Linked DNA regions of Homo sapiens: region 2 is linked to region 1. The links come from fine-mapping of genetic effects on gene expression. Tissue or cell type: unexposed skin. Region 1 holds a variant in brackets; the other region holds the start of a gene. All regions are shown on one strand. Distances are between the middles of the regions.

Region 1 (8,413 bases):
TCGGCTCACTGTAACCTCCGCCTCCTGGGTTCAAGTGATTCTCCTGCCCCAGCCTCCTGAGTAGCTGGGACTACAGGAGCACACCACCACGCCCGGCTAATTTTTGTATTTTTAGTAGAGATGGGGTTTCACCATATTGGCCAGGCTGGTCTCGAACTCCTGACCTCGTGATCCGCCTGCGTCAGCCTCCCAAAGTGCTAGGATTACAGGCGTGAGCCACCATGTCCAGCTCAACTAAACTTTTCATGGTGCTGTCTGTAAGATCCTAATCCAACAAGCTGAAAAGGTACATTTGCAGAATATTTTGCCAGCGTCCAGAGTCACGTGATATCTTATGTTCTTCAGGCAACACATTGTAATTTGTTCTTAAATAATTGCCGTTGGATTCCATATAAGCATGGCTTCATACAGCAAGTGTGTAAACGTGATTATGGGTGCCTAGCAATAAGGAAATCCTACTGAACTATATGTGCAAGTTTTTGCTATCCAGGAGCTGTCCTTGTAATCGAGAAGGAATTTACTCAAAACAGAAAAGTGCAAGATCATACACCAGGGAGCAGTGTCAAGTTTGGTAGGTGCACATGCGATGGGGTGATGAGAAGGACTAGAAGTTTCTACCCTGTGAGCCATGGGACTCACAGAAAGGGAAAGGCAGAAGAGGGCCTGGATGCTGGATGGGCAGTCAACAAACATCATCTCTAGGTGGCACCCAAGCTGTTCGGTGCCCCTCCTTCCTACCCAACTCCAAGCCCATAGCACCTAGAGAACATATTGAAGTTATCTGTATGTCTTTCCACTACTAGACTGTGAGTGGACATGGTCTGTGGTTTATTGAGCTTTGTGGCACTTCCCATCCCCTAAATCCTGGCAGTGTGCCCGGCACATAATAAATACCTTTTGAAAAATCTGAAGTGAAAGAGTAAATTGAAAGTAAATTCTTACTAAAACTATTAATTCATTAGTGTTAATTCAGTGCTTACTTTGAATCAGTTTTCACAGAATTTTAGAGCAAAACGCTGTGATACAAACAACCTGTAAATGATGCGTTATGTCTTCTGTACCTTAGTGACTTTTCCAGATGGGAGAGGATGGGAATAAAAATGAGGAAGAGGGAAAACATTTTGCTAACTGAAATCCCTGCATAAAACGAAAGTCTCTGCTTCTGTATCTCGTAAGGTCTCTAACGGAACTAGATTCCATTTCAGAACAGTTGGCTGTGTTTCTAGCCCAAAGCACCTACTGACATTATTAAAATATAATAGCACAGCAGTATCCCCTTCTCTTTACTCTGCTAGCACAATGTGTTTGAACGTAGAAAGCCAAATGTGGAGAGCCTCTGTTTGAAAACAGCTCTTGAGATACACACTTTAAAATTCAGTTTGATTTTCCATTTGTGGCATTTTCTTTAACTGGGGGGAAAAGTTATATTTACCACCCATATTTATTAGAACCCATCTCCCAACCTGCCTTGTCTCTGATTCTCCCCTGTGGTATTTAGCCAGGCATCTGCTATGGCTCGGGCACCAGGGAGTCAATAATGAGTGACCCAGCCCCTGCCCTCAACATGCTCACCACAGAATACACCTAAGGGGGCAGCTCATGCATTCTCAGACTTGAGCCCCTGCAAAGGACCCAGTGCTGAAAGTCATTTATAATTATTTATAATTTATAATAACGTTTTAAGCAAAACTCAAGATCTGGCTTTTAGAAGACATAAAAATAGATTGGAGAAGCATCATTTCAATAAAGGATGCTTTATACATTGTGCTAATAATTCTTGTTTATCAAGGCAGCAGTACATAGGTGTTTGGTATACATTTGATTGTGAATCCTTATAATTGTCTTGTACTTGCCCAAGACACACAGCCAGCGAAGGTGGTTATGTCCAGAATCCTGGCCTGGTCTCTCTCAAACCTGAGGCCATGCTCTTCACAGCTATTCTGTATCGAATAGGTCAGCTTTCCAACCACAAAGGAAACCACAAGTTTAGCCAAGTAAAGAAAGACATTTGCAAAGTCATGGCAGGGTGTCTATCATGCCATTGCAGTCTGTGCTATCTCCCTTCGCCACAGGGTTTCAGCTGGTGGCGTAATGTGTTGGCTTCCTAGGGCAGGAAAGCACTCCAGTTTAGTGGGGTTTATGGAAATCTATGGCAAAACAAAACTCTTTTCTTTCCTACTGAAAAAAAATATGATCTGAAGCTAATTTATCATCACCAGGTACCCCTTCAGTGTTGTTGTAGGCAGAATTGAAATAATAACTTCTGCCTTTGAAGAAGGCATGGCTATAGAATTAGAATGAAATGGAGGATAGAGGACTAGGTGAAGGTTAGATCTTTGGACATAGAAGTGCCGCCAACCGTAATGTCTGGTGATGTTCCCCAGCCTGTGGGAGGCAGATGAGATTGAAACCAGGGTGTACATGAGTGACCTGGAGCCCGTAAGTAACAGTAACACAGAGCAGAGAGCGCTAGATGAGGTGGAGCTCAGAGGAGCATGGGAAGTTGAATGAGACAGTAAGGAGCATTCTGGAAGCTATAATGGGTAGTTAGGAGAATGCCAGAGTGATTCTGATGCAGTCCTTCCAAATGCCGGCAGAGCCCAAGCTGTGACCAGTGACGCAGACTGGAAGTCCCGTTTACTGGGAGAGAAGAGGTTAAGGAACACCCAGGTGAACAATTAGGTCCTCCACAATGAAGACAGGTAATGTGGAGGAAAGAGAGCTTGTCATGGTAAGTGAAAGCAGCCTGAATCCATTTTTGCGCTCTATGAAGCAATATATAAATTTAATATAAGAAATATTTGTTCCTATAAAATCTATATGTTTTGATAGCAAAAAACAAAATTATGATTTCTGTGAAAAATATAATTCACATCCGGAACATCTTATGGTTGTGTTTTGTTTAAAAAGTATGTAGGTTTGGCCGGGTGCGGTGGCTCACGCCTGTAATCCCAGCACTTTGAGAGGCCGAGGTGGGTGGATCACCTGAGGTCAGGAGTTCGAGACCAGCCTGGCCAACACGGTGAAACCTCATCTCTACTAAAAATACAAAAATTAGCCAGACATGTTGGTGGGTGCCTGTAATCCCAGCTACTTGGTAGGCTGAGGCAGGAGAATCACTTAAACCTAGGAGGTGAAGGTTGCAGTGAGCCAAGATCGCCCCACTGCACTCTAGCCTGGGCAACAGAGCAAGACTCCCTCTCAAAAAAAAAAAAAAAGTATGTTGATGTTTGTATTTTAGCTGCATTGCTAACCGTTTATAGTGTTTTGAATGGATGAATGCTAATGTTTATGTGTATATATTTTTGTTTTCTTAAAAACAGGTTCTTGCTCAAGTACCAACTCTATGGACCCAGGACAGGTTTGTCCCATGACCTGCTGTGAACAGTGTGTTGTCTGATAGAAGATTCGGTTGGCAAACCATCTCTCTATTGCCTTACAGAGCAAGCAAAGAAGATGGATCGATTGAAGAGCCATCTGACTGTGTGCTTTCTACCTTCTGTGCCCTTTTTAATCCTAGTATCCACTCTAGCCACCGCTAAGAGTGTGACTAACAGCACTTTAAATGGCACTAACGTGGTCTTGGGCTCTGTGCCCGTAATCATTGCCAGAACTGACCATATCATAGTCAAGGAAGGGAACAGTGCCTTGATTAACTGTAGTGTTTATGGCATCCCTGACCCACAGTTCAAGTGGTATAATTCCATTGGCAAGCTGCTGAAAGAAGAAGAGGATGAGAAGGAGAGAGGAGGAGGTAGGCTTTAAAGTTGTATCAAATGTCATAATAAAATATAAACAGGAGCTTTGGAGCCAGCACCCGTGATGTTAGTTCTTCTCATGCAAATGATTTAAAGATCTCATCTTGTCTTGTTTTTCTAAGGCAGGAGAGAATATATATCCTTAAGGATTCAAAGAAGCAATTAATTCATTTTTTTCCCTCATTGACACAGAAGACAAAGGACAAACACAGAAGTCTTTTTAAAGGCTTCTTGGAATTTTGTAATATAATACATCCAATACATTATAGAGACAAATGTAAAATGGATTTTCCTAA[A/G]TAATATATTCAATTTTTAAGGGAGTTTTGTTTTCTTTCATGGAGATGGCTGGAATAAACAATATAGCCATTGTTTATCATTAAATGTCCATTTAATTCATTGGCCGTGGATTTAAAGACCACACTTCTGAAAGAAACCTCAGTGCAAGTCTCAGCCACTGGCTGGGATTCCTGGAGACCTGGCTGCAGTTTCTAGGCTGAGGCAGGGAGGGAGGGAGGATGCAATAACAAGGAAGGATGTGGGACAACAGGAGACTGCTTGGTTTTTAATAAATGCATTTCTGACCAAAAAGTGTGAGTCACCTCACTCCGGGAAAGACTAGCCAGAGAGAGGATTGGGTCTTCGGGAATCGGTGCATTTCTTGTTTTAGATGCGAGAAGTAATTGTCTGAAAACCCAATCCTGGTCAGATTGACCAGAAGGAGTTAATCTGCTTTCCTAGGCATTTACTGTGTGAAGTAGAGGGGTTGGGGTGGGGGAGTGAAAAGAACATTGTTCTAAAGTAGCAGCTTATTAGTTTCTTCCATTCACATTGCCCTCCTGTTCCACAATTCTTTAACCAATGAGCAATCCCCAAAAGAGTTTCTGCTCCAGGAAAACCTACATTTTAAATCTCTTTCCCTCATTTTATCTTAATTGCCCTGAAAAAAGAATAGAGGCTAATGCTGTATATCTCCTTAGGAGCTAAGTGAATGGAGTTTTCTTGCAGTTGCCTACTTCTGGTTCACAGCTGTGTTCCGAATGGTTGAGGCTGCTAGCCGTCTAATTGGCCAGGATGTGGGGTTTGCTGTAGTGCTGTCACTTACATTGCTTTTGGTTAGCCAGTCAAGGTTGTAGAGCATTATAAAGCTTCTTCCTTTAAGTCAAAATATTACATATTATGAATCGCGTTTAACCTAGGAGAGTCGAACTTTTACCCACCAAGAGGAATTGTGGGACCATAGCAAAGTTAAATTAGAACTCACATTGAAGACATTATAGTTCAAATACCCATTTACTGAAATTTGCCCAAAGTCCTGCTATTATTAAGTGGCTATGACTAGGCCTGTAATCCCAGCACTTTGGGAGGCCAAGGCAGGCAGATCACCTGAGATCCAGAGTTTGAGACCAGCCTGGCCAACATGGTAAAACCCCATCTCTACTAAAAATACAAAAATTAGCCGGACATGGTGGCACGTGCCTGTAATTCCAGCTACTCAGGAGGCCGAGGCAGAATAATCTCTTGAACCCAGGAGGCAGGCGTTGCAGTGAGCAGAGATCACGCCACTGCACTACAGCCTGGGCGACAGAGTGAGACTCTGTCTCAATTTTAAAAAGTGGCTATAACAAGAACCTTCACTACTGACAGTGGAAAGGTGAGGGAACACAACCCCTAGCCCACACTGGTTTTGGTTCCTACAGCCACTTCCTCCAGGACAAGTCAGAAGGCAGTGATGTCACACTTGTGAATGGAGGGCAATAGCCATGGTAACAAAGACACTGCAGGCCAGGTACCTTAGCAGGTCTTTCTGCAGGGCTGAGCTATCGCTAGGGAACCCACGGTGACTGAATCAAAGGGAAGAAAGACCCAAGACCTGGATCTCCCTTTTACATGGACCCTAAAGCAAAGGTTATCCCTGGGTATTAAAAAGCTGGGTTGGGGCACTGAACTCCTCAGTCCTAGAGAGGAAGAGAACTGTGGGAATAGCATAGCACTGGGGCCTGAATTTCAGTTCCAACATTTCGAGGATTATCCCAAAGTGTAGTATCTTACTGCGTCTGAGATACATATGTGGTATCTTAGCGAAAAGGTCCTTGTAACTGCTGACTCAGCGTTGGCAAGCTGACTCTGCACCGTCCCTCCTTCATCTGTGTATTGAGGGCATTGAACTAGTTGGTAGTTATATTTGGCTCCATTTTCTTTTGTTTGTGGGTGCTAAGATGGACTATAGTAGTAGCCTGTCAGTAGACCCCAAGCTAGTGGCCGCCAGTCAAAAGCCTTTGCCACAGAGAACTGCTCCATCAGAATTCAGCACTCTGGTTTGTAGCCAGCAGCCTTGCTGATAAATCAGTTAGCTATTTTAAATCTCTTTAAAACTTTCAAGTTTTAAAAAGAACTCGTGATACTAGTACTTGATGTTCCAGCTCAGCTTTTGTAATTACAATGCATGATGGTAATTTCAGAGCATAAGCAACATGGGATAATATACAAAGCAGTGTACCTAACAACCAAGCAATACACAGAAAACAACAGAAACGAGAGATTCTTGCTCAAAAAATATCAGAATCTGAGAGCTGGAATGGCCTATTGGTAAACCCACAGTCTTTAACTTTTCATTTTTGAAGGGGGAAATGTCCATATTATAATATGGACATAGATTTCCATTTTCAAACCAATAGGCTAGAAGTTTATATGGAGCGGTGTTTTTTGTGTTTTGTTTTTTGTTTTTTTTTTTAAATAAAGAGGTGATTGAATATAGTATGAAAAATACTAGGCCAAGCGCGTGGCTCATGCCTGTAATCCCAGCACTTTGGGAGGCCGAGGTGGGTGGATCATGAGGTCAGGAGATTGAGACCATCCTGGCCAACATGGTGAAACCCTGTCTCTGCTAAAAATACAAAAATTAGCTGGGCGTGGCGGTGCATATCTGTAATCCCAGCTACTCAGGAGGCTGAGGCAGGAGAATCGCTTGAACCTGGGAGGCAGAGGTTGCAGTGAGCTGAGATCGCGCCACTGCACTCGAGCCTGGTGACAGAACGAGACTCTGTCTGAAAAAAACAAAAAAAAGAAAAATGATACTAATATCCTAGAACCTTACCTAGGTACACTAAGACTACTGTTAGAACCAAACTAACAAAATTATAATTTTCATTAACAACTGCTGCCATTTACTAAGTCGCTGCACCAAGTGACATATATTATTTCTAATCCTTATAATAAGCCCTACAGTGAAGTGTTATTAATCCTCATGTATACAGATGAGAAACCAGGTGAAACCAGAGGGTATGACACAACCAGAGTGTGGCCAGCGGGTATTCATTCTCCCTCTGTGCCCCACCACATCATCCTTTAGGTCCTGTAGGTGAAAAATGTTGAAGAGCCTCTCACTCAGACTGAGTGAATATGAGAAGAACTAGATGGAAAAGGCATCCTCACTACCGATAGCAAGGTCAGACAGTGTTAGGATTTGTGCCGGAACATGTGTGTGTACATGGCATGCACATGCACAAAAAGGCGTTCAAAAATCATCGGTGAGTCACTCAAGGAGCACACTGCCATTCACTTTGTGATTAGCCTGGAAAGGAGCAATTTCATGTCTCGTTTCTGCTGAAAAGGTGAGAGAGCTGTTATTCATGCCAGCCCCTCCAGGCCCAGAGAGAATGGGGCTATTTCCTGTCATTGGCAGGAGCAGCAGCTGGTTTGCTTTGCTTGCCTGGTGCTGTCACTTCAATTCCACAGGATCAGGAGAGGCTAATGTGTGATCTCTATCTGGAAGACTTTTGTTTTTGTAGTTCAGCAAAGAACCTGTTTGAGGTAGTCCACACACCATAAAGCAGACAACATGAATAACCACAAATGGCCACGAAATATACTGTTTTCAGTTTTCCTTTTGCTAGAAGTGAGTAGAAATGTATAGTAGCCAGGAATTAAGTCCTAACTATTTCAGGCACTAATTATCCAATGTGTTTTCACTGTTGCTTCTTACTGTGACTTTAAACCATTTACATTAACATTAGCACCTCTCTGAGATAAGTAACGAGGATTTCAAGAAAGTCAGCTGGTTTCAGCCCTTGTAAACATGTCTAGGTTTGTTAGAGATTAAGTTTGAAATTCTTCCATTAAGTTAGGTTTTTTACTTTTCCTGTGGATTTGTTTTCTGTGCTCTTGTAGTGTCTGGTTGCCAAAAACAATTAAGCACTGAGTCTACAATTGTCACAACTGCTACTATAGTGCTATGGAATTCATTATTATAAATTTTGCCTCTAGTTTACTTTGCTTTATTGTTTTTATCCCTCTACTTTTGCAGGTTTCTTTGAATAGATTGTAATATGCCTTTTAACTAGTTCTGCAAGGGACCATGACAAGCTGTGTCAGCCAGTGATAAGACTGTAGTTATCACCTCCCTACTTAATATTTATATATCAATAGGTCGGTGTCCACAGCATTAGATGTAAATTATCCTTTACCTCTAAGATCAGTGTGAAGTGGTGTATTAACCTGTTATACTGAATTCTTGTTTAGTATATTAAATACTTGAGATTTAAAACACTCATCAAGGCCATGTGCAGTGGCTCATGGCTATAATCCCAGCACTTTGGGAGGCCAAGATGGGAGGGTCACTTGAGCCCAGGAATTCAAGATCAGCCTGGGCAACATAG
Region 2 (8,413 bases), 22 kb before region 1:
TCCAGGAAGAGTGTGAGGTCAAAACCTCCAATGCTCCACTCACTCTCTGTTGGAGGGGTTAGAATATAGAAAGGAGAAACTGGAGAGTACCATTGGGCCTGCATCGATTACAAAGCAAAATCTCTATGTTGTTCAACAAGTGCAAAAACAAGCAGCTACTTTACTGGGTTACTCTCCTATGTTCTCCAGACCCTCTAATATAAGCCAAGGCTATGTAAGAAGCACAGATATTAACAACACTTTTATTAATGGGCAGATACCTCTCCCACCCACATAGATCTCTCTGCCAAAGAAAACCCAATACAGGGGCTACTTGAAGTTTTTGACCAAGAGTTATTATTTTTCCTTTTATCCATGTGACTTAGAACTGTTTCTCACATAGAGTGTGCAGAGTCACCAGGAGGACTTGTTAAAAATCACTGCCTCTTGGACTACTCTATCCAGAGGTCTGGAATGGAAACTTCATCCACCAGGTGATCCTGAAGCTGGTGATCAGTTCGCCCATAGTTAGTACCAGGTGCCCCCAGCAGACATTATGAGCTGATAGAACTGTAAAAAATTATGCTAATTCCAAAAAGGCTAGTCTGCCCTCCTGGGGTGCCATGCTTTCAACAGAAAAAAATAAACTAAATCTATTCTAAGGAGTAACCACATAATTAGAAGGTTATTACCACGTTGTGGAAAGAAATAAATACAGTGATAAAGAACAATGGAATTTGTGGGTTAATTAGTAATACAGTGCTGGGCTTCATGCAGTTACAGACCAATAAAACAAGGACATCAGACTGGTTCACAAAATACTTCCTGATTTCTGAAGCTGAAGAAAATTCATTGGGCTTAAGGAGGTCAAATCTGAGAGCTCAATTATCTTAGTCTCCTAACTTATTGTTAGGAGCATAACCATTCAGCAGGTTGCATATGATGTGACTGTTCTGGCATTTTTTCTTTGCAATCTGTTTATAATTCTCAGCAACATTTTTTTTAAATTAATAAACTTTAAACATTATATCAGTCCATATGTTAAGTATTTATTTATTAAGTAAAATTCTATTGAAGACTAAGAACGAAGACACAAAGATGGCTGAGACACAGCCCTTGCGATCAGGTTGCCTACAGTGTAGCGGAGGAGATGAAAGAAAAATCAATCAAGGTTAGGTGTCAAATGAAAACAGGTGAAGTACTCAAGAGGCATTCACCTTGGGAAGATCAGAGGACATCCTGCCTGAACTGGATCTCCAAGGCTCAACAGTTTGTCAGGTGAAGAAAGGAGAAAGAGAGACAAAAGAACTAACAGATATATGGAGGTGTGAATTCACACGGCAGGTAATTTGGACTGGTGAGGATATGGGATATTAGGGGACACAGGCTGGAGACTAATCTGGAAAGGAAGGCAGCAGCCAGTTCATGCTTAAAGTTTGGACCTTATCCTGAAGGCATTATGAATTCACTTAAGGATCTTTAGCAGACATATTGTAATACAATTGGCTTAAAAAGAAAAGTCTGAGGAGCTATGGAGGATGGATTGGAGGGGACACAGAGAGAGGATCCATCTAGGAGTCTGTTGCTCTGTGGTTGATCAGGAAGATGATGGGGACTGGAGTAAGACAGGCAATGAGGCAAGGAAGGGAGGTGTTCAGAAATGAATAAGGACAGGATAGATAATGCCAGGAGACCAGCTGGATGACACGGGAAAGGCAGATGAATGAATCTAGGGTAACGCCCAGATTCATCATGTAAGTGACTGAGAAGATACGGGTACCCGCTAACCAAGCTAGTAAATACAAGCAGAAGAGCAATTGCAGGTCATCCTGTTTCTTCTCATCCTCCTCCTCCAGATTCTCATCCTTTGCACCGCCCCATTGTAGGTGTTCTGTGGTCTCTTCTTCCTGAGAGCTGTCATCCTCTCTGATGATTGCCGCTGTCAAAGGGGTGTTAGCTGGTATGTTCTCACATGGCCATGCGAGGTGTTCATTTCTGGAATCCTTTCTGGTTGATCAGGCAGTTGTTCTGATAGGTCAGCGTCTTCCCTTTATCCATACTATTTGTGTGTGTGTGTGTGTATATATATATATTTATTATTTTTGAGATGGAGTCTGACTCTGTTGCTCAGGCTGAAGTGCAGTGGCGCAATCTCTGCTCACTACAACGTCTGCCTCCCAGATTCAAGCGCTTCTCTTGCCTCAGCCTCCCAAGTAGCTGGGACTACAGGCACACACCACTATGCCTGGCTAATTGTTTTGTATTTTTAGTAGAGACTAAAAATCTCTGTGAAAGATTTTTGAAAGATTAATGTCATGACAGACTCAGGAACAGAAAGCTTCAGATGGATGGAAGTGGCAGTACAGACTGTTGAAAAGACATCTTGTCCACCTTTGTAAGGCTAGACTATTTGTGGTGTGGATGTCAAGGGGTACCTGGGCAAGTTCAAGGGCACTGCTCAGGGCATACCAGCAACAATGGATTCTCAAAGCACAGGAGGAGGATGAAGGGGACACTCCAGCACAAGCTAGGATTCCATGGTGGAAGCAGCTAAGTAAATGTATTCTTCCAGGAGTGACCTTCCATAGAGATAGTGTCTCTGACCACGCTGAAGCTGAACTGGAGCTGGGCAAGGCAGAGAGGTTCAAATGAAGGGTGACTCCCACTATCACACCAAGCCCCACTGGGCAGCTGACCTGCCTGCCCATCCTCCTCCTCCTTAGACAGAAAACAGCGAATTCCATTCGCCTTTCTGCTCTCAATGAAAGGCTCTCTTTGGGTTCTTTACTAATCTACAATCTGTAAAAGTACTTTCCCTGTGACTTTTCTCCATTTCAGTACTGTCTTCTCTAAATGAGAATTAAAAGCAAGTTCCCCACACCGACCTCAAGTGGTTTCTAAGATAGCAAGAGTGCATTTTGCAGGTTGTCTGAGAATTTAAAAGAGATGGGGGAGGGGAGGAAATAGAGTCAGAGTGAATGCAGAAATGCTGGAGAAGAAAACGGGATATAATACTGCGGAATATTTTAATAGTGGGGACACAAATGTCATAATTAATAAAGCAGGTGGAAAGTTCGCGCTGTGGTGCAATTGTAAAGAATGCTTATTAAATACTTAAAAACAAAGAAAATTTACGTTTCTCAAAAGGACAGCTGAAAAATTCCTTGAGCTAAAATGTGTTGCTATTCAAGATGCCATAAAACTAATGTTAAAATATGATATCTCATTTCAATCTTTTTGGGGGAAAAAATCAGGCTTTGACTCACTCATACGACAGATCCCACGCACCCACCCACCAACATGGCCCTTGGCATGGGCGACCTGCCCACGTGTCGATGCAATCGTGCCTCTCTAGAGCCCTGCTTCCATCCGTTTCCCGAGCTTCGATGTCGTGACGAGAGACCGCGGCTACATCAACCTTGGGCAACCAGATGCAGCCGCGTGCGGCAGCCTGGCACTGCCCGGAGCATGCTCAGTCGGGTCCTGACCCACTTCTGCAGGTCCGACCTCGGGGCGTGGGGTCAGAGGCACTACTTTGCCAGTTTGCCAGGAACAGAGAGGAGCAGAGAGACTGAGAGTTGCTAAAGCTCCTCTCTTGGCACAGCAATGCCTGACCCGGCGGCGGAACATGCCCAGTCTGGCTGCCGGAGCCGCCGGGAGCGTCAATGTGGAAAGTCCACCTTTCCGGGTTTTCGCAGCAACCCACCGGGAAGAGGGCGGTACGGGAGTAAAAAGGCCGGAGTGGGGTGTGGCCAAGAGGGCGGGCACTAAAAAGCCGGGGGAAGGAGCCTGGTCCCGCCCCAGAAATTGAGAGTCTCTGTTCTCTTTTAAAATTAAAAAAAAAAAAAAAAAAAGGGAGATAAGGAGGAGAAGAAGCCACTAACATTGCAGGATCGTGTAGCGAAACTTCTGTAGGTACTTAATAATTTTAGAGTACTCTACTTTTTAATTAAAAAATCAACTTATGGTTCATTAGAAAAAACGTGGAAATTACAAATAATATTTTTAAAGAAAATGAAAAAAAAATTCCTGGAACCCCACCACTCAGAAAGTCACCAGGGAACGGCCCGCTGGGTTTTTTTCCAGACTCTTCCATCTGTGGACTTTGCTTTAAGAGACGTTTAAGACTTACAGCGCAGTCGCCCGGGAAGGCCTGAGAAGCTTTCGGAAGCAAGGTGGTTTGCTCGTGATTGCATTTGATTGCAAGGAGACAGGGTAGGCTTGGGGGTGGGTTGACTGGTTCCCATTTAGCGCCCCAGGATGGGACCCTAAGAAGCCTTTTCCTGGGTGTCCTTGAACACGCGTGCGATGCGACGCCCACAGAAGTTGCGGTGGAAGCCCCGGGCGGGAGAGAGAGCGGAGTGAGAGTCCCGCGCTGCCGCGGAGGCCCTGGGCCTGCGGGTGTGGGGCTCTGGGGGCCGCCGAGGCCCGGCCCAGAGGCTGAGCGGACTGAATGCGGGACTCCCCGGCAACTACAGCCTCCGGTGGCTCCTCCGCGGGGCCGCTCCGCAGCACCGACTGGCTCGCGCCGCACCGCCCGCCCCGCTGCCCCCGCCCGCGGCTGCCGCGAAAACCCGGCGGCTACACCCGCGCCTCCGCGCCGCCCGGCGAGCCGCACTGGGCATGCTCGGCCCCGGCCGGCCCAGGCTCCTGTAGGTGGGAAGCTCCGCGCTCCCGGCAGCCGGCGGCGCAGCTCGCAACGCTGTGAGGCGCCGGCGGAGGCGGCTCGCCCGCAGTAGGCGCTACCGGGCGTCCGGCGCAGAGTGCGGCGCAGCGGCCGCTGTCGGGCTGGCCATGGCGAGGGGTGCACGGCGGCCACCTGAGTGGCGCGGCGGTGTCAGGTTAGCGGGGGCCCCCGGCGGGCCGGGGCGGAGGGGCACGGGTGGGAGCCAGCCCCGCACCGGGTCGGCGGCCGAGTCGGCGCCGGGGCCGCCGAACTTTCGGGTGTTTGGGCTGGCTGAGACTGCGGCGGAGGCTGCGCTGCGAGACGCCGCAGGGTCCGGGCAGCGGGCTCCAGGGGGTCGCAGGATGCTTCGAGATCCGTGCGGGGCGGGGGCTGGCCGTTTGGGGACTGCCGCATCCTGGGCTCGAACCGTAACCTTCCGAGGGCGAGGAGCGCGGAATCCACTGCCAGCTGCCGGCGAGCCTCCTAGGTGTCGTGGGGGAAGGGGACGCCGAACAGCCGTGGGGGCTTTCGCTGGGCTCTGGATCTCTCTCATCGCTGTGCCTCAGTTTACCCGGACAGGGAGGAGCGTGCGCTGGCCAGGGCTCCGGAGAACGTGAATGCGGGTTCCGCGTCGGGAGGGCGCCGTGTCCTGATGCCGCAGGAGTGCGGGCGGCTGTGGGTGCTGCGAGCCGCCGCCTCGCTACTGAAGCTCTCGGAGTTTGTCGCATTTGACTCCATAACAAGTTGACATCGAATTGCTTCATGGCGTGGAATGGGGAAACGTGCTTCATCGGATTAAAATACAGAGTGATTGCAGAACCGATTTATTTTAAGCTTGATCATTAAGCTGTCTTCTCCAGCCCTGAAAAAAAAACTTGCAAGCTTTATAAAGCAAGGTAGCAAAAAAAGGTTTGTAGGTGTATTATCTGCTCACATTGTAGAAAACAGTTAAGATACGATCGAACTGTCATTATTTTTAAGGATACTTAGCAGAAAAGTTTGGTTACTGTGGCAATCTTTATTTTGCGTTATCTTCGATTTAATGTTAAAAACTTGGAAACCGAGCATTGCAGAAGCTCAGTGTTTTTTGTAGTTTTCTCACTTTTGTTTCTAGATGAAACACATTTTTTTCAGTTGCTACTATGCTGAACATAGTAAAATCCTTCAAGATGAAATACAAGATGGAAAAAAATGTCGTTTCATGAGACCGTAAGTTATAACAGTGTAGTTCTTCTGACATTTTACTTACACAGAAAGTGCAATTTGTAGGTCCCAGTGTGGTTTCTACAGTTGTTTATTCCTAAAACATTTAGTACCATTAACACTATTAGGATTATTGTATCTAATAGGGGCAAGATAAACAATCCTGTTCTAGTGGGAACTAGTTCTGCTAACTAAAGCTAAATTCTCAAGCCTCTTTTCTATAAGTACCACTTAGTGGGTTCAGTTGTTTTATTCATTAAGCTTATTACAAAACAATTGTTTACATTCTTTATAGACCTTAATAGACTTTAGAAATGCATTGACTTTTCATTGAGTTGTGGGTAGGCTTTAAGGTTGGTGCTTGCTTGCAAGCCTGAGATGGCTCCAGCTCTAATTCTGGATACTCTCTGGGGTGATTTCCCCCAGTATAGAGTTGGCTCTGTCCTGTGATGCTGCATAACCGAGGTTTAATAATAGGAAAGGCTTGAAACATCCAGACAACAGCAGTAGCAACAACATGATTACCATTTTTATGAATTAGAACCTGCAGTCCCCCATTTTAGCCAAATAGTCTGGTTGGTGATGTTCACTCATCCTAAATTTATTTCTAAATACATTTATAGAAAAATAAGTTTGAAAACTCCAACACAAATATTGAATAATTGTGCTTCTCTTTTCTATAAAAATGCATCAAGTTTAAAATCTTTCATGAAGTACTGCCTGCATGTACACCTTATCCTGAACAGCAGGTCTCATATCCTCAGGTGACATTCCCCAGTAGAAGTAGCTAGAGTCTCCCCTTAGCCTTGGGTTCTTCCTGACCTGGAGGAAGCAGCAAGGCCTCAGTTTACTTTTTGTGAATGTGAGGTTTAATACAGATCAATAGGCCCCCTTCTCGATCCACAAATCCTAAGTACAAATCCTAAGTATTTTCTCAGTGTTAAGAGACACGATGAAATTTAATCAAAGACTTACTTACATACTGCCCTTGGCTTCAAAAAGTCCACATTTCCCTAACCTAAAACTCAAAAAAACAACAGGAGTTAGGTTGAAAAGGGGTTTTATTACTGCTCATGAAGAAAAAAATAGACTTTGTAGGCATGTTACAAAAAAAGGTGATCATTTCTTCTCTTTTGTAGTTAACTATTGGGTTCTTGCAGCTCACTTGCTAGGCACGTGATTTTTAGGTTTATTTCCATGTGTTTAGATTTCTAGACTGTATGATGTTGTTGGTGACATTAGACATTTACAGCAAATTACTCCCTTTAAAAATAGATCTATCCCCCAATCCCTGTGACCTTAATTTATCCAATTCCTATTTGGCTTGCAATTTAAATACTCGAGGCATTTTAAATTGTGCTTAATTTGGACTTTTTATTCTACTTTTTAATGCAAGAACTTTTAGATACTGGAATACAAATAAATATTGTAGCCAAGTTGCTTTTAACCTCAACACAGCCTAGCCAGATTTGTTAAACAAGTGTTAGTTTTTGGAATTTAGAAATCATGCAGATACTATCACTCCCCTAAGTTGGCATCTAACCCAGCACTTAGGGTGTGACTTGTCTTTCCTAGCCAAGGCCAGGAGGACACTTAAAACTTTGACAATGTTTTCAATCTATGGCATATCACATTGCGGTTAGAAATGGCCTTAAAATGCCAGTGGTTAATTTTAAGTTTGGTATAATACCTCCCTGGCATGGTTGAAAGATGGTTACAAAGGGTTTGGTTGATTATGTCATGGTGTAACCACTTAAGAGCTATCAGAAGTAGTTTATAAGTTATGCTCCAAACAGAAGTCCTGTGAATGTATTGGTCTTGCCTCTGCTTCCACCTGAGGTCTTTACTCATTAAAATATCACATTTTTTTTTTCCACAAACTTTTATAGTTAGACTCCTGAGGCCACAAAAATGAGTAAGAGTAAGTCACAGTCGAGTCAGGGAGATATGCTTGAGGACAAATAAAACACAGTACAGGATGAGTGCTCCAGAGAGGGATGCACATGGGACTGAGGAGGCGGGGAAATGAACCCCGTAGATTGGAGGAGGAGAGGACCTCATGCTTGGAGTGACATTTCCATGGGAAAAGTCATGATATTTCATTAAGGAATGCCCAAAGAATTAGAAGTCTTCTAAGCAGAGTAGACACTCCAGGAAGAAGGAACATCATTGGGATAGGCAGAATAATGCCCCCCACCAAAGGTGTCCACTTTGGAACTTGGCAGATGTGATTGAGTTAAGGGTCTTGCCATGGGGAGGTTATTCAGGATTATACAGGTGGGCCCAATGCACTTCTGTGGTGTGGGAGTTCAACGTGGGTCTTAGTGGGCAAAAGTCAGAGACTCTGCAGGGCCTTGTTCCTTTGGGAAGCCCTAGGGGAGAATCTGTTTCTTTGCCTTTGCCACCTTCTAGAGGCCACCCCCATTCCTTGTTTTGTAGCCCCATCCGTCTTCAAAGCTCAGAGCGGCCAGTCCAATCTTTCTCTTGGGGCATCACTCTGACGCTGACTTCTGCTTCCCTCTTTCACGTGAAAGAACCTTTGTGATTACATTGGGCCCACCTGAA

Alleles and levels. Alleles are on the strand shown, and positions count from the first base shown. SD is a standard deviation of normalised expression in the study named.
For the expression in unexposed skin of the gene that starts at base 4,659 in region 2, allele A in region 1 goes with a higher level than allele G (small effect, 0.33 SD a copy in GTEx).

The links. PIP is the estimated chance that this variant, and not a neighbour inherited with it, causes the effect.
Region 2: MFAP3L starts here. The variant in region 1 is fine-mapped to the expression of MFAP3L in unexposed skin (GTEx, PIP 0.98).

What each region holds. Positions count from the first base shown.
Region 1 is chr4:170,000,921-170,009,333 of GRCh38, reverse strand. It overlaps MFAP3L (microfibril associated protein 3 like), which reads left to right. Exons shown (of 3, transcript NM_021647.8): 2 at 3,324-3,754. The coding sequence starts at 3,457. Among named protein-coding and RNA genes, the nearest start is that of MFAP3L, 21 kb to the left of the region's middle. The variant A/G (reference allele first, on the strand shown) is at 4,055.
Region 2 is chr4:170,022,641-170,031,053 of GRCh38, reverse strand. It overlaps MFAP3L (microfibril associated protein 3 like), which reads left to right and starts at 4,659. Exons shown (of 3, transcript NM_021647.8): 1 at 4,659-4,820. RefSeq lists enhancers at 3,434-3,573, 3,563-4,282 and silencers at 3,754-3,823, 4,282-4,681, 4,762-4,851.